Regions from separate parts of the Homo sapiens genome. Here region 2 is linked to region 1. The links come from fine-mapping of genetic effects on gene expression. A gene starts in region 1. The other region holds a variant in brackets. All regions are shown on one strand. Distances are between the middles of the regions.

The links.
Region 2: its variant is fine-mapped to the expression of PPP1R12B in whole blood (TOPMed, PIP 0.98).

Annotation. Positions count from the first base shown.
Region 1 is chr1:202,343,021-202,359,060 of GRCh38, reverse strand. It overlaps PPP1R12B (protein phosphatase 1 regulatory subunit 12B), which reads right to left and starts at 10,362. Exons shown (of 24, transcript NM_002481.4): 1 at 9,919-10,362. The coding sequence starts at 10,209. RefSeq lists enhancers at 1-175, 10,094-10,403, 10,075-10,615.
Region 2 is chr1:202,621,779-202,637,818 of GRCh38, reverse strand. The region is part of intron 1 of SYT2 (synaptotagmin 2); the gene reads left to right. Among named protein-coding and RNA genes, the nearest start is that of SYT2, 81 kb to the left of the region's middle. RefSeq lists enhancers at 1-204, 14,481-15,105 and a silencer at 12,291-12,370. The variant C/T (reference allele first, on the strand shown) is at 8,309.

The DNA.
Region 1 (16,040 bases):
GATCACTTTTGAGAATTCATTATACCATTCTCTCTACTTTTGTATCTTCTATTTTGAAATATTCCATAATAAAATGCTTAAAAGAGAGTCACTAGACCAATAATTAATACAGAAAAACCAGATACATATATCATGCCAGATATATCATGAATATTTAGAGCATGGCACCATAAAATATTCCCCAAATTTGCATTAGATTAATATTCTAACAGATTATCACTGTGTCATAACATTTAAGTATACTAAATATAAAATCATCTCTAAATTTTTGTATAAACCTATTCCATAACTATAATGAAGTAGAATATTTCATTAAAAACCACATGCAAGTCAATTTCCAATACTGAAAACTCAAGTTTCAGTTTTTTTTTTTTTTTTTGAGACGGAGTCTCGCTCTGTCACCCAGGCTGGAGTGCAGTGGTGCCACCTTGGCTCACTGCAACCTCCACCTCCCGGGTTCAAGTGATTCTCCTGCCTCAGTCTCCCGAGTAGCTGGGACAACAGGCGCGTGCGACCACGCCCGGCTAATTTTTTGTATATTTAGTAGAGACAGGGTTTCACCGTGTTAGCCAGGATGGTCTCAATCTCCTGACCTCGTGATCTGCCTGCCTTGGCCTCCCAAAGTGCTGGGATTACAGGCGTGAGCCACCGCGCCTGGGCAAAGCTTCAGTTTTTCAATTGAATTGCCTCATGAAACAAACATAAACTCTGCATGCCTGATAAAACTTTAAGCCCCCAAATTTTACTCAAACTGGTTACAATCTAAGATCAGAAGAAACAATTTTTTTAAATGACACTTCAAAAGCAGGAAAAACCCCAACATATTCACAGACAAAAACAACATCAACAAATTGGGCAAGCACTCAATTAGCAATCCAAATGAGGCTTCAATTCCTTGTCCTATATGACATTCTGGGCCAAGGTCTTAATCTGGATTTATTATTACTATGTTGAACCATTAAAGATTTATTAGACATCCCAAACCTCCATATTTCACCATCTTAGAGAAGATATATATGTAATTCTCCTCCATAAGCATAAAATAGTCTCAAATACTGATAAATATAGTACTCCCCTGACACTCCTCAAGAGCCAGAATGCTAGAACAGAAATCGGTTATGTAGCCAATTTCCTATTATAAGTTATAATAGTAACCAACTATTCTGGAGACCAATCCCAAAATTCAAGTTAGTTTCTAAATTGTATCTACTGCTAAGTAAAAGTAACAAGCAGCACAGAATCAGATACACAGTAGACACTCAAGAAATAAATGTAAGAGAATGGCAGAAAAAACTGTTTATTGGTACTAACCTCCCTATCACTGTTCCCCCAAGGCTGCCTTCCAGTGGAAGTGCTAATGAGTGGGAAATGGGCCAAACTAGACTGAGAAGTAAAATAAACTAGATAAGCAGCCATCAGTAATAGGGACATAACTTTCTTGCCCCTATTATCAGGTTTAATATCCTAAAATATTCTTAACTGATGAATAATGAAACCACCTGAACTAGCCAGAATTCAGCTTTTAAAGTGTCTTGCCACATATTTTGGGCCCTCATTTAAATTACAATTATATTGATGGAAAATCTATATTTTTTCTCCCAAAAGTCAACAGAAAGACAAGTTATCCTTAATGCAAAAAAAAACTTCATATAACCTCCACAAAAGTCTTCAAAAATATCTCTACTGAAAGTGCTCTTTCAAAGTTTAAATGACCAAATCCAACAGTCTTTTTACAGGCCTTCTCCTCAATTTCCTTTTACATTATTTACCATCCATTCCTTGAAATACCTCAATATCACTGTTTGTCGGTTCTTCTCTGTATTAGTTTCCTATTGCTGCTATAACAAATTACCATAAACTTAGTTGCTTAAAACAACACAAATTTATTATCATAGCATTCTGGAGGTCAGAAGTCTGAATCATGGCCAGATGCAGTGGCTCACAACTGTAATCCCCAGTGGCTCACACCTGTAATCCTTGGGAGGCCAAGGCGGGTGGATCACCTGAAGTCAGGAGTTTGAGACCAGCCTGGCCAACAAGGCAAAACCACGTCTCTACTAAAAATACAAAAATTAGCTGGTTGTGGTGGTGGGCGCCTGTAATCCCAGCTAATAAGGAGGCTGAGGCAGGAGAATCGCTTGATCCCGGGCAGCGGAGGTTGTAGTGAGCCAAGATTGTGCCACTGCACTCCAGCCTAGGGGTCAAGAGCAAAATTCAGTCTCAAAAAAAAAAAAAAAAAGTCTGAAATCAGTCTCATTGGGCTGAGTTGTCAAATTGCTGGCAGGGCTGGTTCCTTATGTGGAGGCTCTGAGAGAAGAATCCACTTCCTTGCCTTTTTCAGCTTCTAGGGTCCACCTGCATTCCTTGGCTCACAGAACCTTCCTGGAATCCCTGCAATCTCTTGCTTCCTTCATCACATCTCCTATTCTGATTCTGCTCTCTTGCCTGTCTTATATGGATGCTTGTGATTATATTGGGCTCACCTGGATAATCCAGGCTAATCTCCTTATCTCAAGATCCTTAAATTAATCATATCCCCAAAGTCTCTTTTACCCTGTAAGGTAACATATTTACATGTTCTGGGGATTAGGACTTAGACATTTTTGGGGCACCATTAGTCAGCCTACCACATCTTCCAACAGCTCTAACTTGAATTTCTGCATTCTCTGCCTACCAGCTGCTTGTGTTTTCTGCTCTTCTCTGTATGTTTTCTCCCTTTCCTCTTTCACACTCATTACTTCAACTCTCACCTTTATGCTAAAATCAAGTCTCTTGTCTCAAATATGAGAAAACTGGAGCATAGATAGGAAAGTGACTAGCCTTGAGTCACATAGATACCTACAGGATATTTACTTACTTACTTACTTATTTATTTGAGACACAGTCTTGCTCTGCTCTGTCACCCAGGCTGGAGTGCAGTGGTGTGAACACAGCTCACTGCAGCTTCAACCTCCTGGGCTCAAGTGATCCTTCCACCTCAGCCTCCTATGTAACTGGGACCACATGTTTGCACCACCATACCTGGCTAATTTTTTTTTGGGTGGGGAGGGGGTTGGAGAGATAGGGTCTCACCACATTGCTCAGGCTGGTCTCAAACTCCTGGTCTCCAGCAATCCTCCCGCCTTGGCCTCCCAAAGTGCTGGGATTACAGATATGGGCCACCATGCTAAACACCTATAGGAGATTTCTATTTGTACGTCTTCAGAGTACCTCAGTCTAATCGTTGACTGAATACTATTTCTACCTGAATAACACAATTCTTTCAGACTCACAAGCTAGAATTGTACTACACTTTTTTCTCATCTCCATTCACTCAGCTGGTTCTCTCAACTCTGTCTCTCCATTCATTCAGAAATCCAAGTGCTGCTTCAGAATCCTAAAATACTGCTTTGGTTGGGTAACGACCCTGCTCAAACCCACAAAAATTCTCTACTAAGGAGTCCATCAAGCCACCTTGGCCTGATGTTTGATGTTCAAAGCCCTCTAGGATGTCACCCTGACTCTCTCTCATCTCTAACCCTTCAAACACATCCATTAGGATTTCCTAGCATCCTCTGCCTACACACCACACCCATTCCTATTTATTCGCCCATGCTGCTCTACCATCCTGGACTGCCTTCGTTTGTCCTTCCACTTAGGAATACATCCTTTCCAGGGTATCATAGAATTTGGAACTCTAAAAGGAATCTTTTTTTTATTTATCTGTTTCCAAACCTGACTGTTAGTTCCTTGAGGGCAGAAATTATACCACATATATACTCTAGTACAGACTTACAATCTACCATTTAGACATTCAATATTAGTTGTTAATTAAGAATCTAAGAAAACCTCTAAAGAGAAAAATATAGTGGAACACGGCCAGGCATGGTGGCTCACGCCTATAATCCCAGCACTTTGGGAGGCTGAGGCGGGTGGATTACCTGAGGTCAAGAGTTCAAGACCAGCCTGGCCAACATGGTGAAACCCCGTCTCTACTAAAAATACAAAAATTAGCTAGGATGGTCTCGATCTCCTGACCTCGTGATCCACCCGCCCAAAACCCCGTCTCTACTAAAAATACAAAAAAAATTAGCTGCGCATGGTGGCAGGCACCTGCGGTCCCAGCTACTCGGGAGGCTGAGGCAGGAGAATGGCGTGAACCCGGGAGGCAGAGCTTGCAGTGAGCTGAGATCACACCACTGCACTCCAGCCTGGGCGACGGAGCAAGACTCCGTCTCAAAAAAAAAAACAACAACAAAAAAAACAATTAGCCAGGCGTGGTGTCACCCCCCTGTAATCCCAGCTACTCAGGAGGCTACGGCAGGAGAATTGCTTGAGCCCGGGACGCAGAGGTTGCAGTGAGTCGAGATCGTGCACTGCACTCCAGCCTGGCTGACAGAGCGAGACTCTGTCTCAAAAAAAAAAAAGAATGGGACACATGTAATTAATGGCATATTATTCAAATATCAAAAACTTTACTCTAGGCCAGGCATGGTGGCTCTTGTTTGTTTATAGACACAGGGTGTCACTCTGTCATCCAGGCTGGAATGCAGTGGCACGATCATGGCTCACTGCAACTCCAGTTCCTGGACTCAAGCTATCCTCCCGCCTCAGCCTCCCAAGTAGCTGCAACTACAGACATGCACCAACATGCCTGGCTAATTTTATTTTTTTGTAAAGACAAGGTTTTGCTATGTTGCCCACGCTGGTCTCAAACTCCTGAGCTCAAGTGATCCTCCTGCCTCAGCCTCCATCTATTGTGATTATTGGGACAAAATAACTGATGAATGACTGTCATGGGCTGAGGGTGGGAGGAGCTGTCTACCAAGGAGCACAAAAAATCTTGAGGGTAACGTTCTACATCTTGATTACAGTGGTGGTTCCACAACTGTACGCATTTGTCAAAACTCATACGATGCTACACTACAAAGAGTGAATTTTATTGTATATAAAGTATATCTTAGTTTTAAAATATTTTAAAAGAAAAAAATAAACTACTTAGTTTTATGTTAACAACAAGACTGGTCCAACTCCTTACCTTTGGCAGAATTGTGCTTAATCCATATATATTGACAGGTTGCCTATTTCAAAATACTCACAGAGTAGAAGATTCTAAAAGCCCAAATGGTGATATACAGTTATTCAGCAGGAGTTGAAGAATTGGGGAGAGGCCAGGCATAGTGGCTCCTACTTGTAATCCGAGCACTTTGGGAGGCCGAGGGGGGAGGATTGTTTTAGCCCAGGAGTTCAAGATCAGCCCTGGCAACATAGTGAGACCCCCTTGTCTACAAAAAATTTTAAAAATTAGCTGGGTATGATGGGGTGTGCCTGTAGTCCCAGTTACTAAGGAGGCTGAGGTGGGGAGGATCACTTGAGCCTGAGAGGTTGCAGCTGCAGTGATCCATGGTCACACCACCACACTCCAGTCTGGGTAACAGGGCAAGACCCTGTCACACACACACACACACACACACACACACACACACACACACACAAAGAAGAAGAATAGGGAAGAAATTCTGCGGAACAAATGAAAGTCATTTTTATTTATACTTTCAAAAAAAAAAACCACACAGACAAAAAGCTGAATTTCCCAATATGGCTTTGAGGTCCAACATAGTCTGATGCAACATATTAAGCAATTTGAAGAGGTAAGCTACTAAAATGGCTCAGGATAGATGACTATTCTAGATGCACAATAATAAAGGAGCAAACAGGATTTTTCTGAATCCTATGTTGCCATGGGTCCTGACACTAAGCAGAATTCATCAATATTCAGGGTAAGGCAAAAGTAACTTCGCAGGTGGAACCAGGAGAGGAATGAGTAATAAATGTAGAATAAAAGAGAAAAGGTTAAAAGCACAAGTTTTATTTTACCATATGAGTTAGCACACAAAATATACTATTTTATATTGAACTGAACACACATTCATCTTACTCATCTTCTGTCTCTGTCTGAATATAAATTGCTCAGCCTATCCTCCTCCCCTCACTTGTTCCTATCTCCATCTCTCTTCCTGAGAAATACGTGATTTTAGCCTCCCTAAGTCTACAGCGTCAGACTGAGGCAACTCTAGAATGACAAAGGCTTATTCAACTACAAACTGAATTCCAGTCTGGTGTGACCTTGAGGGTCCAAATTTGGACCCTGCACATTACAAAGACAGTCTGAATTTCTTTTTTCTTTTTTTTTTGAAACGGAGTCTCACTCTTTTACCCAGGCTGGAGTGCAGTGGTGTGATCTCAGCTCACTGTAACCTCCACCTCCTGGGTTCAAGCGATTCTCCTGCCTCAGCCTCCCCGAGTAACTGGGACTACAGGTGTGCACCACCACACCAGGCTAATTTTTGTATTTTTAGTAGAGACGGGATTTTGCAATGTTGACCAGGCTGGTCTCGAACTCCTGACCTCGTGATCCACCTGCCTCAGCCTCCCAAAGTGGTGGGATTACAAGCGTGAGCCACCACCCCCGGCCGCCAGTGTGAATTTCTGAGTCAAGTATGGAATTATTCTAATCTCCTTGGTAGCCCTCCAGATGAAGACTGATCAGACCGTGCTAAGAGACAAGACCTATGGTGACTGAAATCCAGCATCCCTCACCACACTCAGCACAGATTTAAGAGTCAACATAATACATGCTGAAGTAAGTAAGCATTCATTTTAATAAATCCTAGAAAAATCTCTTTTCTGAAAGTAGGCACTTGCCTCTTCCCACAGCAATAATTTGGTAGATATCATGTATCTAGGCCTAGAGTACCTAAGATTATAATGCTAAGGATATCAAGATAGGTGCTAACAGTCAAACTTAATAAATAAATAAAAGAAAAAATTTAAAGTACTATTCCACATAGAATTATTAACAAATATTCCTGGCCTTACAATGTGTATACGCAAATGAAACAGAAATTCCTTTGTGAGCAAACAAGTGCTTTCAAGGGTTCTATAATCAGATTAATACCTTGTTAAGGACTCTAGGACAACACATGCATACACACCAAATCTTAATTTAGTCACTGAAATTTAGTCTGCATCAGTTTCCAAGGCTTTCATCAGAGTTGGTCTAACCTTTGAGATACTTCTTATCCCAGTCTAACTCAAGTATTATTAATAGGCCCCCTGGAGCTTGTTATCTTTGACTCAAGCACCTCGTGGTCTCAGCAAAGGCTGCCAAGAAAGAAGGTCTCTAAGTCCAAAAGAAGCATCAAGGCACCACAAGCTGCAGTGCAAATCATCTACTGTGACGTTGTAGGAGGAGAAAAATTGTCCCCCAGTATTATCTGGGGGCTTCTAACATGCCAAGACAATAATCCACAGTTGGTCAAGTGGCCATGGCCAAAAGAGAGAAAAGAAGCAATTATCCAGATAATTTATATCGTGCTTGTATAACAAATGGACATTTTAAATAAATAATTCAGATAATTGTACCACTCACTCTCCATTTCACAGAAGGTGAATCCATTGTAAAGTAGGTGGTTCAGCTACCAACAGCTCCAGTCTCCCATTTGAAAATAGTCTTTTATGTACCTTAGGAGTTCTCCAGGTCGGCCATGCGCGGTGGCTCATGCCTGTAATCCCAGCACTTTGGGAGGCCGAGGCAGGCAGATCATTTGAGGCCAAGAGTTTGAGACCAGCCTGGCCAACATGGCGAAACCCCATCCCTACTAAAAATACAAAAATTAGCTGGGCATGGTGGTGGGCACCTATAGTTCCAGCTACTTGGGAGGCTGATGCATGAGAATAGCTTGAACTTGGGAGACGGAGGTTGCATGCAGTGAGCTGAGACTGCACCACTGTACTCCAGCCTGGGAGATACAGTGAGACACTGTTTTTTTTTTTTTTAAACAACAACAACAACAACAACAACAACAAAAACTTCTCCAAGTCATGGAGACACACATTGTAACTCTTCGGAAACTGACTTGTAATGTTCTGAAGCCAATAAAGGCCCGTTGTCTTGATTCAAAGATACAGTTTCTCAACAGACCTCAAATCTTTAAGCAGCTTAATTTTTAGCTGAATTTGTCTAGAATCGAGTATACTTGTTCAGTTCAACTCCTTGTCAGCCCTATAAATGGAAAGGAATGCTTATATTGCATTTATAGATGTTAAAAAAAAATCCATAGCTGTCATCCCCTTCTTCTCTTATTTCAATAGATTACTAGGCCAGGCACAGCGGCTCATGCCTATAATCCCAGCAGTTTGGGAGGCCAAGGAGGGTGGATCTCCTGAGGTCAGGAGTTTGAGACCAGCCTGGTCATCATGGTGAAAGCCCATCTCTACTAAAAATACAAATATTATCTAGGCGTGGTGGCAGGCGCCTGTAATCCCAGCTACTCGGGAGGCTGAGGCAGGAGAATCGCTTGAAACCAAGAGGCAGAGGTTGCAGTGAGCCAAGATCTCGCCATTGCACTCCAGCCTGGGCAACAGAGCGAGACTCTGAATCAAAAAAAAAAAAAGAAAAAGAAAAAGAAAAACAAGAATTCACCTTCCCAAAGAGTTCAGAAATTTAAAGTTTAGAATTTAATGTGGTTCTCTTAGCTTTTATCTCATTTTACATTCAGCTCCTTATTAAGTGAGATAGAGATCTCTGTGACATAAGTCTGAAAAATCCATGCCTATGGGCCACTTCTTTACTTTCTAACTTTGCACAAATAATTTTCCTGAGCTTCAGTTTCCTCATCTGTAAAATGAGAATAACAACACTACCTGCCACACCTACTTCAAAGGATCACTGCTGAAACTCACATGGGGTAAGACATATGAAATCAAACAGCAAAGCACTCTACAAATATTGGTTACTACCTCAGGTGGGGAAATATTATCAGCAGGAAAAAAAAATGGGTACAAAATAGGGTGAAAGAGTTTCTTCTACCTGAAATAGAAGGGTTGCAAACATAGTGAGAAGTAACTTTTTAAGCTATTGGCTAAATATATTTAGGGAAGTGGTCTGATATAAAGTTGAGTTATTATTTAGAAGTAGATTCTCATGCCAATACATTCACTTTGCACAGACGGCAGAAGAAGAAAAATACAAAAGATTAAGAGTGGGTGTCCGGCTCTCAGCTCACCAAAATAACTGATGAAGTTCCATTTGAGGAGAGAGGGGTAGTTAGTCATGGCAGTCAGTAGACAGAGAATATTGCTGCATTAGGTGACAGAAGTAAAGGTGTCGTTACCAAGCACAGATTATCCACAATCCATATAGTATAGCTATACATGGGGCATGGGATTTCTATAGAGCACTTTAGAAAAAAAAATAGAAAAATAGAAAAGCTATTCCATAAGTATCAAACAGAGGTAATTCAGTAACTTAGTTCTCCATAGGAAGCTCTCAGGGAGGTAGCACTGCTGAGAAGGAAGTTAAGATACCTAAAACAACGAGGTCCAGCGTGTTCTAGGAGCTGTAGCCTAGAGGCAACACAAACTGTTTTGAAGTACTACAAATCAACAAAACAAGAGGTGTGGTTTCAGACCTGCTTGTCTTTACCCAGTAAAGGGCTTTACTCTTTAAGTGATATAAGATATTCTATAACGGGGACACACAACAACTGAATTTTCTGAAAGGGCATCAAACAAATGACACTGTGCCTATGAGTGACGCGGTGTGCAGGCACGCCAACCAGACATAAGTGAAGATAACTAATCTACAGGGATAAGACCAGGGACAAAAATCACCAGTAACCATGACAACACAAGTAGGTGGAGGGAAATACAAACACTGACCAAGCAGCGGGGTGACGCTATTCCTAAGACCCTGGGGTCAGAAAAAGACTTGATTAGTGGAGGAAGCTGGCCAAGAATGAAACCGATTAGCCCAAAAGGGCAGTGTCCATGCAGAAGGAGTCGGCGGCAACACTGATACTCCCCATGGGGTGGCTCGCAGGGTCAAAGGCTCATCTGTAGGAGACTGGACGCCTCTAAGACCAAGAAAGGAGTTACCTGGTGCAGGGCTGTCAAGCCGTCCACGTTGACCGTGTTGATATCAGCACCTCTTGCCAGAAGCTTTCTCACCTCGTCGGTGTCCCCGCTAGAGCAGGCGGCCAGAAAGACAGCACCGTCCTCGAAGCGGACCCTGGGGCTCCCGCGCCTGGTCAGCGGCTGCCGCCCCGCGCCTCGTCGCTCCGCAGGCTCCTGCTCTGTCAGCGAGCCCCGCCAGCGCCGAAGCTGCTCTGCCCGCCGCATTCGCGCCGACTCTGCCCGCTTCCCTCCTAGGTGCTCCAGTTCCGCCATTGCTCCGGCCTCGGCAGCTGCTGCCAAAACTACCAACACTAAATTACTGTTGGGGCTCGAGTTGCCGCTGCCGCCTCTCTCAGAGCGCTTCAGCCCGGAGCAGAGGGCGGAGACCCTCGCGCCGCCATCTTTACTCCTCCCGCCAGTAGTACCGCCCGCACGCTCCCTCGGCTTCAATACGCAGGCGCTGCCCGGCCTCGGGTCATCACGGGACTCGTAGTAAGAGGCCTGCCCTAAGTGCACTTGGTGGCCGTAAGGGAACTACAAATCCCTGGATGCATCAGAAAAAAGGCGAGGACCGGCGGCTCTCTCTTTCGCCACGGGACCCAGTGGGGTCACCTTTGCCCTAAAGCTGGAACTGTCTCCTGGACTGGCGTCAGCCTCTTCCTCTGGGCATTTTGGGAGTTGTAGTTTATTCTTGTTATGACTAGTAACTAATCTTATCTCCCTAATTATCACATCAATTCTTTGGAGTGGAAAAAAGGCGGTAATTATTCCTGTTTTCTGGAGGAGAGAACTAAACATTAAGTACCTAAACGACTGGATTCTATATCCTAGTTCTAAGTCTAGGGTTTTATTAACATGTGTATTAATCACGGTAAATGTGAATGAGCGTGGGGAAGAGGAGCATACATACAGATACAGTATTACATGTTTTACATAAATACTGTCAACTTACTCCAGGCCCAGAAAAGATCTTGAAAATGATGCATTCAGATGTAGTGAAAAGAGTTTAAGCTGTGAATTTAAATTGAATTCACAGCCGCAGACAAATTACTTGACTTCTCTTAGCCAGTTTTCTTATGTGTAAAATGGGAATAACATCTCACAGGGTAGTCATGTGGATCAAATGAAATAATACATGCAAGGATGCCTAATACTATCTTTGGCACATATTGGATCCCAATAAATAATTTCTCTTCCTTCTCCCTCCTCCTCCTCCTCTACTCTTTTCATATACCTTAAATTTTTACAAGACAGAATAGATGTCTTCCATGATTTTTATTTCTTTTCTTTTGAGACAGAGTCTCACTCTGTCACCCAGGCTGAGTGCAATGGCGCAATCACGGCTCACTGCAGACTCAACCTCCTGGGCTCAAGCGATCCTCCCACCTCAGTCTCCCCAGTAGCTAGGACTACAGGTGCCCACCACCACACCCACTATTTTTTTATTTTTTTGTAGAGACAAGGTCTCACCATGTTGCCCAGGCTGGTCTGGAACTCTTAGACACAAGCGATCCTCCTGCCTCAGCCTCCCAAAGTGTTGGTATTACAGCCCTGAGCCACTGTACCTGTCCCATGATTTTTTTTTTCAAAGCTAGAGAAAGATACTATCAAGCATACTAAATCATACTAAATTCCTAAGGTAGCAAATAGAACATTTTTATATTCACCAAGACTGGGTTATAAAACATGTATCTGTCCGATTGTTTTGTTTTGTTTTGTTTTGTTTGAGACAGGGTCTCGCTCTGTCACCCAGGCTGGAGGGCAGTGGCATGGTCGTGGATCACTGTAGCCTCAACCTCCCAGGCTGAAGCGATCCTCCCACCTCAGCCCCCCAAGTAGCTGGGACTACAGGCCTGTGTCACTATGCCTGGCTAACTTTTGTATTTTTTGTAGAGACAGGGTTTTGCCATGTTGCTCAGGCTAGTCTTGAGCTCCTGGGCTCAAGTGTTCCACCCACCTCAGTCTCCCAAAGTGTTGGTATTACAGGCATGAGCCACCGCATCCGGCCAGTCCGATTGATTTAATAAGTATAACCTCCAGTGCTCTAGCCCTGAACAAAATACAATTAAATGTGTTACCCATAATGAAAGAGTACATATGCAAATGTTAGATTCTTTAAACGTTTCTGTATGTTTAAAATTTTTCATTTAAAAAATGTTGCAAAATGATTGGGGTATTGTAAAGGGAAACTTTATTATATTCTGTCATGTGAAAATTTGCCTGTTCCTCAATTTCCCCTGAAATGAAGTGGAAATCATACATTAAGGAAACAATTAATTATTGAATTGAAAGCCTCAAATGAAAAGTGACATATAAATGTAAAAAATATTATGTTTAATAATACTGTGTCTAAACACCATATGCTTTAGTAGGATATTCTTAAATACATTATAAATACTAATTAAACCTCATGTCAAATCTGTGTACTATCAATAACAATGTACATAAGGAAAATCAAGGTATAATAATGTATACATTATGTAACCTCATTTTCCTTGCTACATGCATTTATTTATGGCCACCATAGAACTTGTCATGTCTCATCATTTATTGCAATTAAAAATTCTTGGCCAGACGCGATGGCTCACGCTTGTAATCCCAGCATTTTGGAAGGCCAAGGCGGGCAGATCACTTAAGGTCAGGAGTTCGAGACCACCCTAACATGGTGAAACCCCATCTCTATTAAAAATACAAAAATTAGCCAGGCACAGTGGCAGGTGCCTGTAATCCCAACTACTCAGGAGGCTGAGGCAGGAAAATCGCTTAAGCCTGGGAGGCAGAGGTTGCAGTGAGCCGAGATTATGCCACTGTACTCCAGCCTGGGTGACAGAGCAAGATTTTCTCAAAAAAAAAAAAAAAAATTATTCATGAGATTTACTTTGTAACATATCACAGTGGGACCTCCTCTTATTCCAATTCAGCCTCTTGCTGATAATTACTATTGCCCACAAGCTCCCAAATAGAACTCTCCCTAAAGGATAAAAGAAAAATTGATATTAAATCAAATAGGTAAGAATACTCAGCTAGAAGCCTAATCCTATTTACAGTCCTCATGCATCATTTCAATATTATGTTCCTCGTATATGATAGCTGCTCCTATATATATATATATATATATATAACTTTATGTTTTACTGGCATACTGGTCTTCTAATAAGGATTTTTAAACTGGAGTAAATTTTTCAGGGATCAATAATGATGCTTCTTTTGGCTGCATTATTTTTGTATTCCGAATTAGGAAGCAAAAAATATCTGGTTCCAGTTGTTTAAATAAGCTAAAATTGACCCACTCCAGGTTAAATCCTTACTTTCCCAAGAGATATGAACTTAAATTTCTTTCTTTCTTTTTTGGAGACAGAGTTACCCAGGGTAGAGTGCAATGGTGCCAACATAACTCACTGCAGGCTCAAACTCCTGGGCTCAAGCAATTCTCCTCCCTCTACCTCCTGAGTAGCTGGGACTATAGGCACATAAAATTATTTTATTTTATTTTATTTTTAAGTAGAGACGGGTCTTGCTATTTTGCCCAGGCTGGTCTTGAACTCCTGGCCTCAAGCAGTCCTCCCACCTCAGCCTCCCAAAGTACTGAGATTTTAGGTGTGAGCCACCATGCCCAGCCTGAGCTTAAATTTCAACACAAATTCAGTCTCTTTTTCTTTTTTTTTGAAACGGAGTCTCCAGGCTGGAGTGCAGTGGTGCGATCTCAGCTCACTGCAACCTCTGCCTCCTGGGTTCAAGCAATTCTCCTTGAGAAGCTGGGACTATAGGCACCCACCACCACGCCCGGCTAATTTTTGTATTTTTAGTAGAGATAGGGCTTCACCATATTGGCCAGGTTGGTCTCGAACTCCTGACCTTGTGATCAACCCACCTTGGCCTCCCAAAGTGCTGGGATTACAGGCGTGATCCACCGCGCCCAGCCAAGAATTCAGTCTCAATATAAGGAAGTTCCAGGAAGCCAGAAGTACTTCCTTACCATACCTATTTTATTTGCTTCTTTTCTTTTTTTTCCTGTGGAAGTAAGAGTGTAATACCTTCTTTGGAGATTTTACAGAAAAGTGTAAGTAGTTAAATTCCTTGGATCATTTAAGTGCATATCTACTTGGAGATAGAGGAATATACCTTCTGGCTATATGATTATTGAAAGTAGTAATAATTATTATAATCTAATTAATTTTACAGGCTCAGCCAAAAAAAATGCCATGAAAACATTCATCTACCTCTAATGACTTGAAAAGTTTTTTCAAATTGAAATCCTATTTTTTCTAAAACATGTTTCCCAACTAGGGCTTTCTGAGAATAACTTACACAATCAGCTCATTAAACAAGTATGGTAATTTAAATTTCCTAAATAAGTACTCCATTCCTTTATTATTTATTTATTATTTATTTTTGAGACAGGATCTCACTTTAGATTTGCAGTGGTGCAATCACAGCTCACTGCAGCCTTAACCTCCTGGGCTCAAGTGATCCTCTTACCTCAGCCTCCCAAGTAGCTGGGACTACAGGCATGCACCACCATGCCTGGGTAATTTTTGTATTTTTTGGTAGAGATGAGGTTTTGCCATGTTACCCAGGCTGGTCTCAAAGTCCTGGGCTCAAGCGATCTGCCCACCTAGGCCTCCCCAGATGTTGGGATTACAGGCATGACCCACTGCACCTGGCTATAAGTATGCTATTCTAAAGAAAATATAAGCCTGGCCAACATGGTGAAACCCCGTCTCTACTATAAATACAAAAATTAGCCGGGCATGGTGGTGGGCGCCGGAAGTCCCAGCTACTAGGCAGGCTGAGGCAGGAGAAGCGCTTGAACCCAGGAGGCGGAGGTTGCAGTGAGCGACAGAGTGACACCCTGTCTCAAAAAAATAAAAAATAAAAAATAAAAATAAATAAGATATATTTTCATATACTAGTGAGTAAATCCTGACAAATACTACTGTATAAAAATAAAATACAATTTTTATACTTTTATAAGTACTAAGTGAGCCTGCTATGATGTGTTGTAAAGTGAAGAAACCTTCATAAAATAATAATTTTCATAGCTATAATTTAAAAATAAATTATAACATTAGAATGCTCCATTTTTAAAAACAATGACACCTGTAAAAAGTTTATGAAAATCTTTTAGCCTGGCCTCTATTCCCACCAGTTAACATACCCCCTCTGGTGGACAAATGGAAACTGTACATTTAGTGTATGGGGTTCTTTTTTTTCTTTCTCTTTGTTTTCTTCCTCCCTCTCTACCTCCTTTTCTTCCTTCCTCTTTTGTCTTCTATCCTTTTTTCTTTCCTCTCTGTTGCCAAAATTATAGGGATTTACTTATTTTATCAAACCATCTCTCTTTTCCACCGGACTCAATACAGTTCTTGCTTTTTTAAGAGACATTTTTAAGACCTATTTCTCAGAGAACCACCCAAGGAAGTAATCAATTTCAGTTCTGAAGACAGAACTGTAATTGAGATACAATTACAATTGGGGCAGGAAGAAAATAAAGACAGGTATTGAAAGGACTAAAACAAAACATCAGTAGTAAAATAAGCAGGAACTCAATTATGACAGAAAACACTTCACTAAATGCTGAGTAAATGCTAACAATAAATGCAAACCCCCAACAGCAAACTGGAATTAGACTGGACAAGAATGGGATTCCTTATGTTTGTTTCACAACTTTATAATAATTAATAAACTACTGTAGTTGGTTTATTCCTACAACTAAGGTGAGGAACCCCAGGGGAGCATCACAGAGTCCTAGTGAACATGTGGTGCCCTTGAGAGAAAACACCCCACACAATGGCTATGGGGAACCATTTGCCACTTAACACCAGTTTTGACTAGATGTAGACATCACTGCAGTGGCCAAAATTATACTGATTTACAAGTTTAGAAAGAGACTGATTATTACTCTGTTACCAATAATAGTAATAAATAGTATAATAGTAATAAATAATAGTAATAATAATAAATTACTATTAGTATTACCATCGTTGTTCCAAAGCTACACAGTGAGCTGAGAGCAGTCAGATGAGGGTTGGCTTTTTGCTTGTTTTGTTTTTCCACCCACAGCATTTCCAAAGGCTAGTCAAGTTCCAGCCATGTGCTTTAGA
Region 2 (16,040 bases), 280 kb before region 1:
TCCTTGGAGACCAGAAAGCCAGAGTAGCTTCCAAAGGCCTTAGTTTGGCCCCGGGCACTGAGGGAGGGGCAGAGGGTGAAAGGGGGAAGGAAGGCCCTTGGCCTGGCCTCAGCCCAGCCAGCCCTGCAGCCAGGAGAGATACTGCAGCACCTATGAGCAGCCGGCAGGAGAGTCTCTCAAAGCTGCTGCTCACAGTGGGGCAGACGGAGCCTGCCAGCTCCAAGCCTGCCTTCAACCTGCTCCCCACTGCTCGGCTGGGCTGGGACTTGAGGGCAGCCGGCTGCTCAGAGACAGATTGCAGCCTGTCCCCCATCCCCACCCCCAGCACATGGCGCCTGGGTGAGAGCACAGCCCAGCTTCTGGACTTATGTGGACTTCTTGCATGCGTACTTTGTCCTGAGCCGACTCGTGTGCCCCTAGTCCATGGTTTTTGGTTTTGGTTTTCGGTTTTGGTTTTCAGGTTTTTTGAGACAGGGTCTCACTCTGTCGCCCAGGCTGGAGTGCAGTGGTGTGATCACGGCTCACTGCAGCCTCAACTTCCCGAGGCTCAGGTGATCCTCCCACCTCAGCATCCCACATAGCTGGGACTACAGGTGTGCACCACCATGCCTGGATAATTTTTGTTTTGGGAGGTTTTTCTTTGTTGTTGTTGTTGTTTTGGTAGAGGCAGGGTTTCACCATGTTGCCCAGGCTGGGCTCGAACTCCTGGGGCTCAAGCAATCCTCCTACCTCAGCCTCCAAAAAGTGCTGGGATTACAGGCGTGAACCACCATGCCCAGCCCCTAGTCCATGTTTTAGTGAGACTTGGGATATGAGGAGCCTTGTACTTGCATGTGCTTGGCACTGTGGTGCAGTGGTTAAACCTCAGATGCTAGGGCTAGGTTGCCTGTATTCAAATGCCAGCTCCTCCAGTTTTTTATCTGTGGGACTTTGGCTAAGTTACTTAAACACTTGTTACCTCAGTTTCCTCATCTGTAAAATGGAAATGAAATAGCTTGCCATCAGGTTGGCATGAGGATTTAATGTATGACTATTTACATATAGCTCTAAGAATAGGCAGTGCCTGACACAACGGTGCTGTAAAGATTTTGCTATAAAGTAATATAAAGAGTGTTATTATGGTGTTTCTGAAAACTGACGTTTTGTAGATAAAGAAACATAGCAGCAGAGCTGGGAGTGGGGCGAGGCAGGGATATGATTGGCTTTGATGAGAAGAACCTAGAATCCAGTGAACCCACTATTAAGTTACTGCACATGGCCCCAGGCAAGCGGTTTTTCCCTATCTCTTGGACCTCAGTGGTCCCCATTAAAAAATGTGGAGAGGGATGCCTGTCTTTCTCACTTCTCCCAAGATGTCCTGGGATCAAATGAGGCAGACGATGATTTGAAATAGCCAGTGAGCCTAGCGGATGCACAGGTTGGCCTCTCCCTCTCCCTGCTCTGGAGCACATGCTGGCTTTCTGGCTGAGGTCCTGGCATGTTGGGCTTTCTACCAAGGGCACCAAACCCAGTGGACTGCTCTCCCAGTGAGGCCACTTGGACTCTGGGTGGCTCTGGGCTGAATCTGGCCCTCCTCATTTTCTGTTCCTTATTTCACCTGGAAAAAGGATGGTGGTTTTGTATCTCCTAATGCTCCTTAGCAAGAGAGAAGGAGTGTTTCTGAATGCAGTCTGTAGTTGTACAAGCAGAGAAGGGGGCAGGAGAACCTCTCCTTCAAGCTGGGACACCCTGGCCATGAGCCCCAGACAGACTGAGGTGATGCCTTCCCTGGGTTGTCAAAACTGGGAGCTCCTTCCCCCTACCACTTGCAGCCAGACTATCCACAGTGCAGGGAGGCAGGCAGGGGGCTGATCAGAAGCAGCACATTGAGTCAATATCACATTCAGCATCTTTCCTGCCAGGTAAGACAAGGACCCTGGTTGTTAGTGCCCTTGTCGCTTCCTCCTCTTGCCTCCTTCCTGGCTGGGAGGGAGAGCCAACCTGATCTGCTCATAGTATTGCATTGATGGTTAGGTTAGGGCCTCATGGTTTGGCCCCCAATATCTTCTGCCAAGAACCATGGGGGTGACCAGGCTGTGTATACCCAAGCAAGCAACCAAGTGATGCCCACTGTCCTACAGACTTCCCACCTGGTCATCTGGGGTGAGTTGTACGTAAGGAGAGGGAGGGCCACTTTAGAAATGGCCTTAGAAATGTCTGCTTCTGGAGCTGTCCTCAGAGCTTCTTCCTGAATATCATTTTACCAAGAGCCCCAGAGATGAGGTTTCTTGGCCAAGGTCACCCCCAAAATCAACTGTGAGCTCATGTCTTGAAGTCCACTATGTTTCTTCTGCCCCATTCCCCAGGCTTCCCTAAAGAAGATATCCAGCATTGGCTAGAAATGTAGGTTTCCCTTCTGGTGCCTGTCTCCCGTGACCCTGCTCCTGACATCAAATCCCCCTCAACATCATCCCTTGTAAGTTCTATGGGTTTGGATTAGAGAGCGGGGAGAACTTCCTGAGTGGCCTCATTGGGACAGGGAATGGAGGCTTTCCCCAAGATACATAAGGGCAGACCTGCTTTCCATGAGTGTGGGCTGGATCAGGTCTTAGGAGCTTCAGGAGTTCGACAACACAAAGTCCAAAATCAGGTTCTGCGGCCTCCTAGCCATGGGACTTTGGGCAAGTTGCTGACTCGCTCTGAGCCTTATCATTAAATTGGAATGGATATGATTTACTATCTTATTTATAGAAGTTTATAAATATATATTTACTTTTTGAAAACAGCTTTATTGAGCTATAATTCACATACGATACAATTCACCCATTTAAGCGCACAATTCAATAGTTTTTAATATATTCACAGAACTGCACAACCATACCACGATCTAATTTCAGAACATTTTTTCACCCCTGAAAAGGAACTCCATACATATTAACAGTCACCCTCGATTCTTCCATTCCTCCCAGCCTTAGCCAACTAATCATCTACTTTCTGTCTCTATGAAGTTGCACCTTCTGGATATTTGATTTAGATGGAATTATATAATACATGGTCTTTGGTGACTGGCTTCCTTCACTCACATAATGCTTTCAAGGTTTAGCCACATTGAAGCATGTATCGATACTTTATTTCTTTTTATTGCCAAATAACATTCCATTGTGTAGATATACTGCGTTTTATTTCTCCATTCATCAGTTGATGGATGTTTGGTTGATTCCACTTTTCAGCTACTCTGAATAATGCTGCTATCAACATTTGTGGAAGGGTTTTCGTAAGGATATGTGTTTTCATTTCTCTCGGGTATATGCCTAGGATTGTCAAATGGTATACTTTTTTTTTTTTTGAGATGGAGTTTCACTCTTGTTGCCCAGGCTGGAGTGCAATGGCACAATCTCGGGTTCAAGCAATTCTGCTGCCTCAGCCTCCCAAGTAGCTGGGATTACAGGCATGCGCCACCACGCCCAGCTAATTTTGTATTTTTAGTACAGATGGGGTTTCTCCATGTTGGTCAGGCTGGTCTCGAACTCCTGACATCGGGTGATCCACCCGCCTCGGCCTCCCAAAGTGCTGGAATTACAGGTGTGACCCACCTCTCCCGGCCAGTATACTTATTTTTAAATGGTATATTTATATTACTAGGCTCTGTTCTAAGTATTTCATATGGATAGTCTCCTTTAATTATCACAATACTCTACAAGGTAGGTACTATTATGAATCCCCTTATTATAAAGTGAAGAAATGGAGGCATCATTTGAGGGACATCAAGGGATTTGTCCAAGGAGACTCAGCTAAGAGAGCCAGGATTTGGACCCTGGCCTCTGGCCCTTTGCTCTTCCACCACCTTGCTCCCACATGTGAGATTTAAGTGAGAGAATGTCTGAAAGTGCTCCCAGCCTGACTGTAGTAGGTGCCCAAGAAATGTTTGTTGGATGCTGGGAAAGGACCAGAAACCTTGCATTTCGCTGTCTGACTCACCATGTGGCTTTAGGGAATTTGTGTCCCTTTGAGCCTCAGTTAAATTTCCCCAATACATAAAGCTTCAATATGGCATTTCATAAGAGACAGGGCTGAGATGGGAGGTGCAATATCATGGAAAGGGCCCTGGATTCTAGCTCTGGCTCTCTCACTGGCCTCTCACCATTCAGTTAGAGGCTGTAACAATTGATCCTAAGTTTCCTTCCAGCTCTCCCATCCTATATAAGTTCTATGTTCTTCCTCAGCAACTGGAGCCCCCTAGGGAGCTAAGCTGGGATGGGTGCCCAGGGCCTCAGGTCACTGCTGTGCTCAGCAACACTTCTCCCACCCAGTGTGTTAAAGGCCAGGTAGGGGCTGAGTGGGATGAAGATGGGGAGAGGGGAGGACCCACCCTAGGCCTCCCTTCCATTATGGAGCCCTTGGTGTGGGCTGGAGACCTTCTATTCTCTCAGCCAGAAAAAAGCCACCTCACCTACACATCCCCTCAGTCTTCCCTGGCTCTCCTTCTCTTGAGTCCTGCTCCTCTGGAGTCACTGCAGCCCTCATTCCAATGAACTACCCAGCCGTCTTTGGAGGCTTGGCCTAGCTCCTGGTTTGGGATCACTTATGGGAAAGAGCTGGGCACCCAGTGGGTGCCCAGCATATTTTGGTGACTTAAATAGGGATCAGTATTTGAGCTAGTGGCTTCCCCTAGGTCATGATTCCCCAGTTCACTTTTCCCCATCCTTTGTCAGCAAGAGCATTCACTGCATTCTGCAAATCTAACCTGGCAGCACCAAGCGAGGCGCGTCTGCATCTTCCAACTGCACAGCCACATCCTGTAAACTTTTCCTTGGCCCTCCCTTTAGTCCATATTCCTTACTTCCTGGATGCCACCGGTCAGAGTGCCTCCTGCATCCCAGGTCCTGTGCCAAACACATAACATACAGGATGGTGCATTTACCCCTCTGTGGTGGGAATTTGTAGCGTCTCTAGTTTATAGAAGAGGAAGCACATCCAGAACAGGGAAATAACTTCTCCAAGGCCACCAAGCTGGTAGGTAACAGTGGAAGGATTTGAGCAAAGGCTGTCTGGTCCCAAATCCTGCATCATTTGACTGAAAGGAAAGATGGCATAAAGGGCTTTTAAGGGGGTGCCCAGAGCCAGGGAAATCAGGAGGAGCCTCTCTGGGCAGGTGGGCTCTGGATTCCTCCGGGGCAGGTCTGTGTCTCTGTGTCTTCTCTTTTCCCCTGCTTGGAGAAGAGTCGAGCCTGTTGGGTAATGCCTGGGAACACCCTCCTCTGGGCTTAGTCTTCTCATCGACAGAACAGGGTCTGACATTTCCAGCAGGCCTGTGCGCCAAGCTTACCTAGAGATCCGGCGATGGCTACGCAGCCTTTCTTCCACTGGTTATAGAGTCAGTTTCTCCCAGGTTTGCTGTTCTTGCCTGTAGTGTGATGAGCCGGAGTCTCATCCCCAGCTCCCCATCCCCCAATATCTGCGTGTCTCACTATTTTTAAGCTCCGTGGGCTTAATGAGCTGCCTGCCATGACACGTCTTCAACATTTACCTTTTTCTCTAATGAGCCTCAGAGAGCTAGGTTGGGCTTATTTTTCCCTTGACAGTCCCCCACCCCAGTCAGGAGGCCAGAACTGGGCTATTTCCCTTCTGGGCCCAGACTTGGCTTCCTGAGACCCCCACAGCAATGTGCCCCACAAATTATCTAGTGGTGGCAACACTGCAGATTCCAGGCCCTGGGGAGCTGGCTCCTTCTCTGGTGCCACCTTCTGTCTTGTTTCTCCCCTCTTACCCCACCTCAGCCCCTTCCTGCAGAGTGGCAGTGTCATAAAGGAAGCTCTTGTGGTCCTCACATAATTGGCAGCTACTTCTCCTTGAGGACAAACTGCCTGGCGAACCAGCAGGGCCTGGCGAATGAGGCCAATCAGCAGCAAGGGCTGGGATGGAGATGTCAGAGATTTAGAGGCTCTCAGGGTTGGAAGGGAGACCTCAAATTTCATCTAGGTCAGCGCTGTGTCCCCTTACCTGAGTCCTGTCTATAACACCCCTCCCAATAGTGGGCTAACCTCAGCTTGAATGCTCCCAATGATGGAGCCCTCATTACCTCCTGGGACCATGAACTCATCAATGGGTGGTGCTGACTGTGCAAAAACCCTCCTTCATTTTGAGCCTAAATCTATTCTCCCACATGAAGAGAGGAGACCCCCGCAGTGGGTTCATCCATCTTCTGGCTCCAGCCCTCGGTGCTGTGAAGGAGCCGCAAGTCACTCTTCATGAGGAACCATGCCTGGTGTCTTGGGTGGGGGCAGAGGCACCGCTGATCCACAAAGATGTGGTGTGATTTTTTTCCTCTCAGGGGACTTTGCTTGGGGGAGGGGCCGCTGGGAAGAGCCAAGAAGCTGCTAGAAAAAAACTTAAGTCGTTCCTGTTTCTCAAGTGCAAAGTGAACCTGCAGCAGAACATTAGAAACCCTGATGCAGGCTAGCTGTGTTTACGGGGACCATTACATGCCGGTTCTCTGTTGCCAGCTCCAGGGAGTCAGGGTCTGATAGGAGCCACCCCAGGTATTCCATTTATAGTCACAGCTCCAAGCAGGGGTCATCTGTAGGGTGAACTGGAACTCCCTGCGGTTCCAGAGAGCCACAGATGCTCACCCATGCTGGCTTTGGTAGGCAGGCAGCTCATTAAGCCTCTCCGAGGCTCAGGATTTTGCCAGCTTGGAAGAGCACTGGATTGGGAGGCAGGCTCCTTACTCTGCCACTTTGGACAAGTCCCTTCCTCTCTCTGGCTGTCAGTTTCCTCGGCTGTGATATGTGCTATGTGTGGACCTTCAGAAATGGTGCAGGGCTGGGCCCTGCAGCTGCCGAATGCCGTGTGTGTGGGTGGAGGTGCTTCATCCTGGGCTGTGTTCTGCAGGACACAGTGTTTGTCACCAGTGGTCATATGAAGGGGACAGTCCTCTGCCCACTTCCATTCCACCTCTCCTCTGGCCCAGAGCAGGGAGGCCAGAGCCCTGTGTACTGCTAGGCAGGGCAACGGCCCATTCTCAAATGTTTCCTGGGGCCCGGGGTGTGGAAAGATGCTTCCGCTCCTGTGAGGGAAAACCTTGAGGCCTCTGGTGTCCTGGACCAGGGAGGCTCTCCTGCCCTAGGTCAGGCTCTGAGGAGAGGGTCCCAGATGATGGCGTCTCTGGAGCCAGGGGTGTGTTCGGCTGTGTCATCACCTTCCCAAGTCAGCTGTCATCACTGCACTTTCCAGGGTGGTGGCTGTGAGGGGTCCCATCATGGTCTGTGGTTTGTCAGACACCCACCCAGGTGGACGTCTCTTGCCTGGAAAGTGGCCAGCCTCTTCCAAGCCCACCCCATCTCCTCCTAAACCTTGGCTCCCTGCTGCTCTTCCAGGAAGCCTTTCCTCAGTGGCTCCCTGGTTCTAGGTGCCTTTGCCCTGTGGTTCTCAGCAGAAGCGCCTGTGCATCATGGGAAAGCCGGTTGGCGATGGGATGCACGGCGCTCTATTGGGGTCTGTGTTCCCTCTCCCCATGTGTCCTCCAGCACCTGGTCAAGCCAGAGTGTGTGGGAGCCAGGGGTCAGCCCCCAGCTCTTTCTGCTCTGCACATTCGTTTTTCTTTTTGATGTAGTTATAACTTAGATTCAGCAAAGTGCACAACTTATGGATATATGCACCAGTGTAATCACCAAAGAAATTCCCCAGAAGGATCCCTGTCCCCTCCCAGCCCCTGCCTGCCCCTCCAGTGTAACTGCTCTATTGCCATGGAGTCATTTTCTGTTCTTCGGAGCTTTCCTCCCATTCCTGGTCATTTCTCAATCTCCCTGGCTTTCTTCTTTCTCTACAAATCCTCCAAATGCTGATATTTCTAGAAGCCCATCTCTGGATTTCTTCTTATGCCCACACTCTCCCCAGTGGATTATCCTTTTGTGCTAGTGACTTCCAGAGTCACTTCTGAGCAACACACCTGCCGTACCACCCCCCCCCCCCCACCAGCTGCCTGCTGGGTATGGCCGCTTGGCTGGTCCGCTGGCATGGCTAGGTCTTACCTAATGTCAAACTCCTGGGCTCCAGTGATTCTCCCACCTCAGCCTCCTGAGTAGCTGGGACGACAGGCATGCACTACCATGCCTGGCTAATTTTAAAATTTTTTGTAGAGATGGGGTTTCACTGTGCTGCCCAGGCTGGCCTCAACCTCCCAAAGTGCCGGGATTACAGGTGTGAGCCACCACACTAGGGATAGGTTTTGGCTGGGACACCCTTGGGGAGTCTGGGCAACCTCACCTCTTCACATCCCAGTGTTGTCATCTATAGGATGGGAGTGGCAGCTAGAGGAAGAACAGCTAGA[C/T]TCTGCTGACTTCTGAGAGGAGGATGTGGTCAGATACCCACAAATGAGAACTTGATACCCACAAATGAGAACTTGAAAGCTTGAGCAACCAAAATAGAGACTTAGCAGCCACTGTTGGAGAAGCCATGGCTGCTGAGAGGCCTGAGTATTGGGGAAGGTGGGCTGGAGGAGGGGGAAAGCCTTGGCAGTATCTGGACACAGGGGCAGGAAAGAAGCCAGGGATAGTGCAATGGCTCAAGAGAGGCCTTGGCCCAGAGGTGGGCATCAAGAAGGCCATCTGGGCTGGAGCTAAAGGCATGGGTAGAAGGAGGACCATTTATTAAGAGAGGCCTGAATTATCTCAGAAAATAATAATTTAAAAAAAGGGTATTGGCTTAACCTGGTCCTTAATAGGGAGTTAGCAGAGAGGCTGCCCCACCTCTCCACTGGAGCCATCCCTGTGTGCTTCTGACAGGCCCGTGCCCAGCCTGGCTCAGGAACCGGCCATGGCCATAATACCATGCTTTACATACAGTGCTCCTAAGCCTCGCAGCCCTGCGCAGCAGCTTCCATTATCATTCCCATTTTGCAGACGGAGTGCTGAGGCCCAGAGAGGTTAAGCAACCTGTTCAAGTTCCCATGGCTAAAAGAGCCGAGACTCCAGTCCAGGTCAGTCTGCCCAGAGCCCAGGTGCTCATTCACCCCACTTGGCAGCACCTGGTGTTTCACTTGGCTCCTCTTCCTCAGCGGAGCTGTCTTCTAGGTTTGGATCCACATAGAATTCCAAGTTGAGGCTTTCCAATTTGGAATTCTCCCCCTCACTGCTCCCCTCCTCCAGCCCATGGGTGTTTTGAGGCCATGGTTCATCCCTCCTGGCCCCTATCTCCCATGTCTGTCCCGGCCCCCGGTCAGGCAGGAGAGAGCTGGCTTCTTTGGAGCACCTAATTGTGCCCCCGGGACTTGCATGCTCCACTTTAGTTTCTGGAGACCATGAGCTGTCATAGGTGTTGGTGATAATGGGCATCTCTGTCTGAAGAGTGATGGGCACGTCTCTGTCCCTGGGGCCTGGCCAGCACCTGGAAGGATGGAGGCGCTCTTGGAAACGGGAGGACCAGACTGCACCTTCTTTGGCTGGCTCCCTGCCTGGGATGCTGGCTCCCAGCTCCCACTGAGAGCAGGCTGGGCTCCCCAGACATCTCATGACCTCTCCCAGGTCCTGGTGTGGCCCAAAGCGAGCTGCTCTGCTACCTGGGAGTACAGCTCTTTCCATCCTCTGGGGAAGGGTGCTTGAGCGAGTGACCTGTTTCGCTCCCCCTGAGGCCCAGTTTCCTCAATTACAAAATGGGAATCACAGTCCCCACCTCACAAGGCCCGGATGAAATGAAATATGCCGCTGGCACGGAGTGGGCACAGTGGAGGTCTCCCTCCCTGCCCCCGGCACCCACCTCTGAGCCCGGTGCCTTTGTGATCTTCCCGTTAGACCCACCTTCCCAGTGTGCTTGAGGAGCTCCCTGGGGCTCTTTGTTGGGAAGGAAAGAGCCCTGGGCTGGGTGCTGGGAAGTCAGGGTTCAAGTGCACTGGGAGGCCCTGGGCAAGCTGATCTCAGAGCCTTAGTTGTCTCCTCTGTCAAGGGGCAGAACCACATCTGCTGCACCTCCCAAAGGCCTGAGCTCTGTCGTCTCCCTGTGAGCTGCTTCAGGATGGGGTTGGGTTTTATTCATCTTGTATTCCCAGCACTTAGCATGGAGCCTGACATAGGATTTGGAGGAAACGAAAGTGAAGATCAGATGAAAGAGTGGATTTTTAAGCAATTAAACATGCTAGGGGTTATTTTCAAGTTTGGGTAAGGCAGACAACTCCTGGTCAAACCCTCATTAACCAGGGAAGTGGTCTTCATGCCCTTCCTTTGCGCATTACTCTCCAGAGAACCTGAGCTGCACTGGATCTCCTTTCCCCATGGGGAGCCATGGGCCTGCCTACCTATAGTGGAGCACTGCAAGGCAGTGCGCCTGCCCGTCCACACCCCACCCATGACCACTCAGGCCCTGGGTGTCACGGTCTGACCTAGACAGGGTGCCTCTTTTGGCTTTGGGGTTTCTCTTCTCTCCTTTAGCAGGGAGCTTGATGGGACGGAGGTTGCCAGAGTTGGGGGGCAGTTCCTGGTGAGATCCCCCACCTCCTCCATTTCCTGCTATCAGGCTCAGCAATCAGGCTGCTCCTCTGGGAGCTGGCAGGAAATGCAGTCGTAAACAAGGCACGTTCCCACCTCACAGCCCTAGTGGTCCCCTGGGAGCTGAGCTGCTTATACAAGTACCTTTGACACCAGGAAGAAGTGACGCAGTCTCTGCAAGAGGAACACACAGAGCCAGGGAAGAGAATTCTGGGCCTTAGGCTCCCCAGCCGCACAACCTCTGCAGCAACCCTTGCCCTCCTGGACAGAGCCTGGACTGGCTCAGAGTCCCTGACTTGGCGAGCACTGCACCCCTCGTTGTGGGTAACACAAGGTCTGTCCTTGAGTTCGTGGTCAGCATGGACTCAGCCTAGCCCCGCTGAGAGGAGAACTGAGGAAAGGAAATGAGTATTTAGGGTCCACTTTGTGCCAGCACATGTGGCCTCTTCAATCCTCATAACATCCCTGTGAGACAGGCACCTGATCCTCGGTTTGTAGCTAAGAAATGATCCCAGGGAAATGAACTCATCTCCCAGGGCTGCAGAGCTGCTAAGTGTCAGGTTGGAAAGCAGCCCTGGCTGTTCTAAAGCCCACGTTCTCTCATGACCCCACCACCCTTTCTGCCGCTTGCCTTCAGAGGTAGAACTCTCCAAGCATCTCGGAAGGCTGGGTTCTAAAAGCTGAGAGGCTATCTAGGCTGCATGCGGTGGCTCAGGCCTGTAATCTCAGGACTTTGGGAGGCTGAGGCAGGTGAATTGCTTGAGCCCAGGAGTTTGAGACCATCCTGGGCAACATAGTGAGACCCCTTCTCTACAAAAAAGAGCCGGGCATGGTGGTACGCCTGTAGTCCCAGCTACTCGTGGGGGTCGAGGCTGCAGTGAGCTGTGATTGTGCCACTGCTCTCCAGCCTGGGTGACAGAGTGAGACCCTGTCTCAAAAAAAAAAAAAAAAAAAAAAAAAAAAGCTGAGAGGCTGTCTTGGGAGATGCAAAGCCACTTTCCAAAGGATGGAAAGAAGTGAAGAGAAACCAGGTCTCTTGATGCCTCTTTCAGGTCCCAGCCCTCTTGCCACCTTTGGAGACAGAGGGTCTGGCAAGAGATGCCACTGCAGAGGGAGGGTGGGGGCTGGTGACCCTGTGGTCTCTTCCAACCCCGAGGCTGTAAGGTGACCCGCATCGTAGTCCACCCCCTCCCATTACCCACGTACAGGGCCTGTAGCTATCACCCCAGCTTCCTGGACAAGTGGTGTGGCCCGAGACCCCCAGCGTTCCCTTCCCTGGAGCTTCTCACATTTCTACATATGGCAGTGTAATGCACCTGCACACAATGTTTGCATATGTGTTCACAGTGCTGGTTCATGCATGTTTATACATTCATACATGGTGTTCATACACATGGCGTTCACGTGCACACACATACACATACACAGCCTTTCTGGCATTCTCTGCTATGTTCTTGCACTGGCTGCTGTCACCCATTTCAGCTGGGCCTGAGAGATGGAGACAGGACCCCCTCCCCGGTGCTGCCGGCTAGCAGATGCCACAGTGCTGATGTTCTGCTCCATTACTGAGTTAATGGAGCCTCCTTCTGCCTCCGGCCTCCCACCGGTTGCCCACCTCCTCCTTTCCAGGGTGTGAGCGTTGACTGGGGGCCTGGGAGGGAGCCTGGCGGGGGTGCGGCTGTGTGCGGAGGGCGTGGGCCTGGCTTGGGTGGAGATGGGGCTGGAGGCAGGCGGCAGCCTCCTGGACGGACAGCAGGGGGCACCGCTAGGTCTCCTCAACGGGCCGCAGGGAAGAAGTGGGCTGGGGAGGAGGCCGCGGTCTCTCCAGCTACTCTCCTGCAGCTTGAACGGGGGCACCTGCCACCCAGCCCGGGCTCCTGCCCCTGCCCCCTTCCCCCTCCCCGCACACTGGCAACACCCCCTCCCCTTACACTCCCAGTCCACGCCACACACACACCCTACTACACACCACACACACTACACACACACACCACACACCACAAACATCACACACACACCCTACTACATGCCACACACACCACACACACACCACACAGACACAGCACACACCACAAACATCACACACACACCCTACTACATGCCACACACACCACACACACACCACACAGACACAGCACACACCACAAACATCACACACACACCCTACTACATGCCACACACACGACACACACACCACACAGACACACCACACACCCTATTACACGCCACACACACGACACACATACCACACACACCACACACATACCACACACAAACCACACACACACCCTACTACACACCACACACCCTACTAGACACCACACACACCACACACACAACCTACTACATGCCACACCACAAAGACACACACCACACTACACACACCACACATGCCACACACAGACACCACACACACTACACAAACACACCACACAGACACACACCACACACCCTACTACACGCCACATACCACACAGGCACACATCACACACACACCACACACCCTACTACACACCACACACACCCTACTACAGACCAGACACCACACACACACACCATGCTACATGCCATACACACCACACACACACCACACACCACACACACACCACACACCCTACTACATGCCACACACACCCTACTACATACCACACACACACCCTACTACACGCAACACACACTACTAAACACCACACACACACTACTACACACCAGACACTGTGCTACATGCCATACACACACTCTATGACACCACACACACCACACAGATACCACACACATCACACACCACACACACTACTAAACACCACACACACCACACACATCCACACTCTACTACACACCACACAGACACACACCATACACACCTTACTATACACCACACACACCTCACTACACACAACAGACCACAACACATACACGTATTACACACACATCCCACACAAACTCACTATACCCCCATACCACACATACGTACACACCACACATATGCCACTACCCACTACCCACATACCCCCTGACACCCCACTAGAGCCTCCACCCCTAACCCACACCACCCCCTACATCACACACACACCATATATACACACCCCACTGTCCCCCACACCCTAGCGCCCACATCACACACACTACACATACAGCACACACATCCTACACATACATACCACCACATATACCCCTACCCACCACATACATGCACACGCCACATATGCACACTCACATCACACACACACCACCACACTCACGCACTCCTATTAAAAGGCTTTTGCTTTCGTGCCAAACCTCTAAACCCATCCCTTAGAGGGGCGGTGATCGGCAGAGCTAGTGTGTTCAAACCTTGTAACATTTAGTCAGAAAGAAAATGCATCAATTTGTAACAGTTTGTAGCTGAAATTGAAGATGTGCATCTGGCATGAAAGATATCGGGACTGTGCTGGAAGGTGCTGTGTGCCTCACATGAGGCAGAGCTGCTCACACTGTGGCTGGAGGATCCATTGATTGTGTGGGTTAATCACTGCTAAGCCACAGAGAGCTCCCCTTTCCCCTGGTGAGCGCTCCCCCAGCTGGCAGTTGCCCACGCACTCTGCAGAAAGCAGTGCCTCTCTTGGGAGCACGACCAGGGCAGACCCCCACAGTCCTACCCGTCCTCCCTCACACTCAGAGCATGCGCACAACAGACCTCCTGGGGCCCACGGGTGCACCCCCCCTACACACTTTCCGTATCCTACACCAGGCAGCCCAGGGCCCGCTGGTCCCCAAGCCTCCATCTGTCCCCACTCAATCACTCATTCCGGGTCGCCCACCCTTCCCGGCCTGCTCCCAAGCATCTTGACACCCAACCAATGGAAGACCCTCTCCTCCGCCCCAGGACAGCTGCCTGTGGGTTTGGGAGATGTTGTGGGGTGCTGGGGAGTGGGGAACCCTGGAGGCCCAAGATTCTGAGTCTCTGGAGAAGGAGGTGGGAAGGCAGCCTGTCTGGGGGCCAGAGGCAGCCCCCTGGGCTGGGAGCAGCTGGGGGCCCCAGCAGGCAGCTCAGGGCTGGCCAGGCGGCTGGACTGTGACTCAGCAGCTTCTCCGTCTTGGCTAGAGTGCGCCGTGCTGCAGTATTAACTCCCTCTCCAGGGAGCCTGGACTCCAGCTCCTCTCCCATGGGGATGGCGGGCTTCTCTGTCCTGTTTCAAGTTGTGATCCTGGCTGGGGTGGCAGAGCGGAGGGTGTGCTGAGGGGCTTGCCTGGCGGGGGCATCCCTCTGCCCCCTCACCACTGCTACTATCCCTGCACCCTACAAGAGTTAGCCAAGGATCAAATGGAGCCAGGGCTTGGTGGGGTGGCCTGAGGGGCGACAAAGGCCTGGAATCCAGGAGTTGACAACTCAGGCAGGGCTGCCACCATTTAGCGGTGTTGTTTGTGTGATGGAGGTAAGCCACCTCCCTTTGGGGCCTCAGTTTCTTTGTTTTCGAAAAGAGGCTGTGGACTGCGTTGTCTGTAAGAGTCCCTCAGCCCTCACAGGCTGGGTTTTATTAATATTTGCCTGTGATTTAAGGGTATCCATGCCTGGGGTCTAGGTTCAGAGAGAAATAAATAATCCGAGGCAGGTGTGAGGTGCTGCAGGTTTACAGAGCCTCACTCAGGAAACTTCACCTTTGATCATGGAAGCTGTCCTTAAGGCAGGCAGGGCAGGGATGCTTAACCCCCACACACAGCTGCACAAGCGCAGGGAGGCTAACAGGCCAGCCCAAGATTGGTGCAGGAAGGGCTCAATCCTCAGCCATTGGATTCTGAGGCGCCCATCAGGTGGCCTGGAATTGCTGATCTCAGCGAGATCAAGAGAAGGAAAATGAGTGTTGCTGCAGCAGGAGAGATTGAAGTTAGACACTAGAAGGACGTTCCAACTCTCAGGAACCTGGGAGTTGTTAGCTTCCCCAGGGCCAGTCAAGAACAGACTCTGCTTCTACGTGTGCGGAATGACAACCTCGCTCCAAAGTGGAGGTGTGCATGCACTGACCAAGAAGGCTCATCAGGCCTCGGTACACAAGGAACTCAAAGAAATGGGTAACTTATTTTCAGAATGAGCTAGAAAATTAATTCATTAAAACTTTATCCTCAGCCTCCTAGGACCAAATGTTGGACTGAAGCATTGGTGCAAAACATAAAGACATATATTTCTCCTTAAGTATTGATCTTTCTAGCCTGTGAGCTTCGGTGACAGGTGTCTTGCTGGTTAACCTATTTCCATCTCATTACTTTGGCTTCTGCAAATACAATGCCGGGAAAGATTAAATACTGTAAGCTGTATCCAGTCAGCTCTCCATTATCTGCATTAATCAAGGCTAGTACTGAGTGGGATAATCCACAGAAGTGCCTAGTCCCCAGATCATATTTAATTGGTTTGGGGTGGCAGTTGATGGTGAGTGTATGTACATGTGTGCACACACACACATATATGCTTTTGGTGAGGGTGAGGATTGAACTTACTCATCTTTGATGTGGCATCAGGATCCCATTTTGGAGGCAGTCTCATTTGGGGGCACACCAAGGGAATCCCAGAAGCCTGCTAGAGGAGACAGCAGGGCTTCCAGTCTCCTG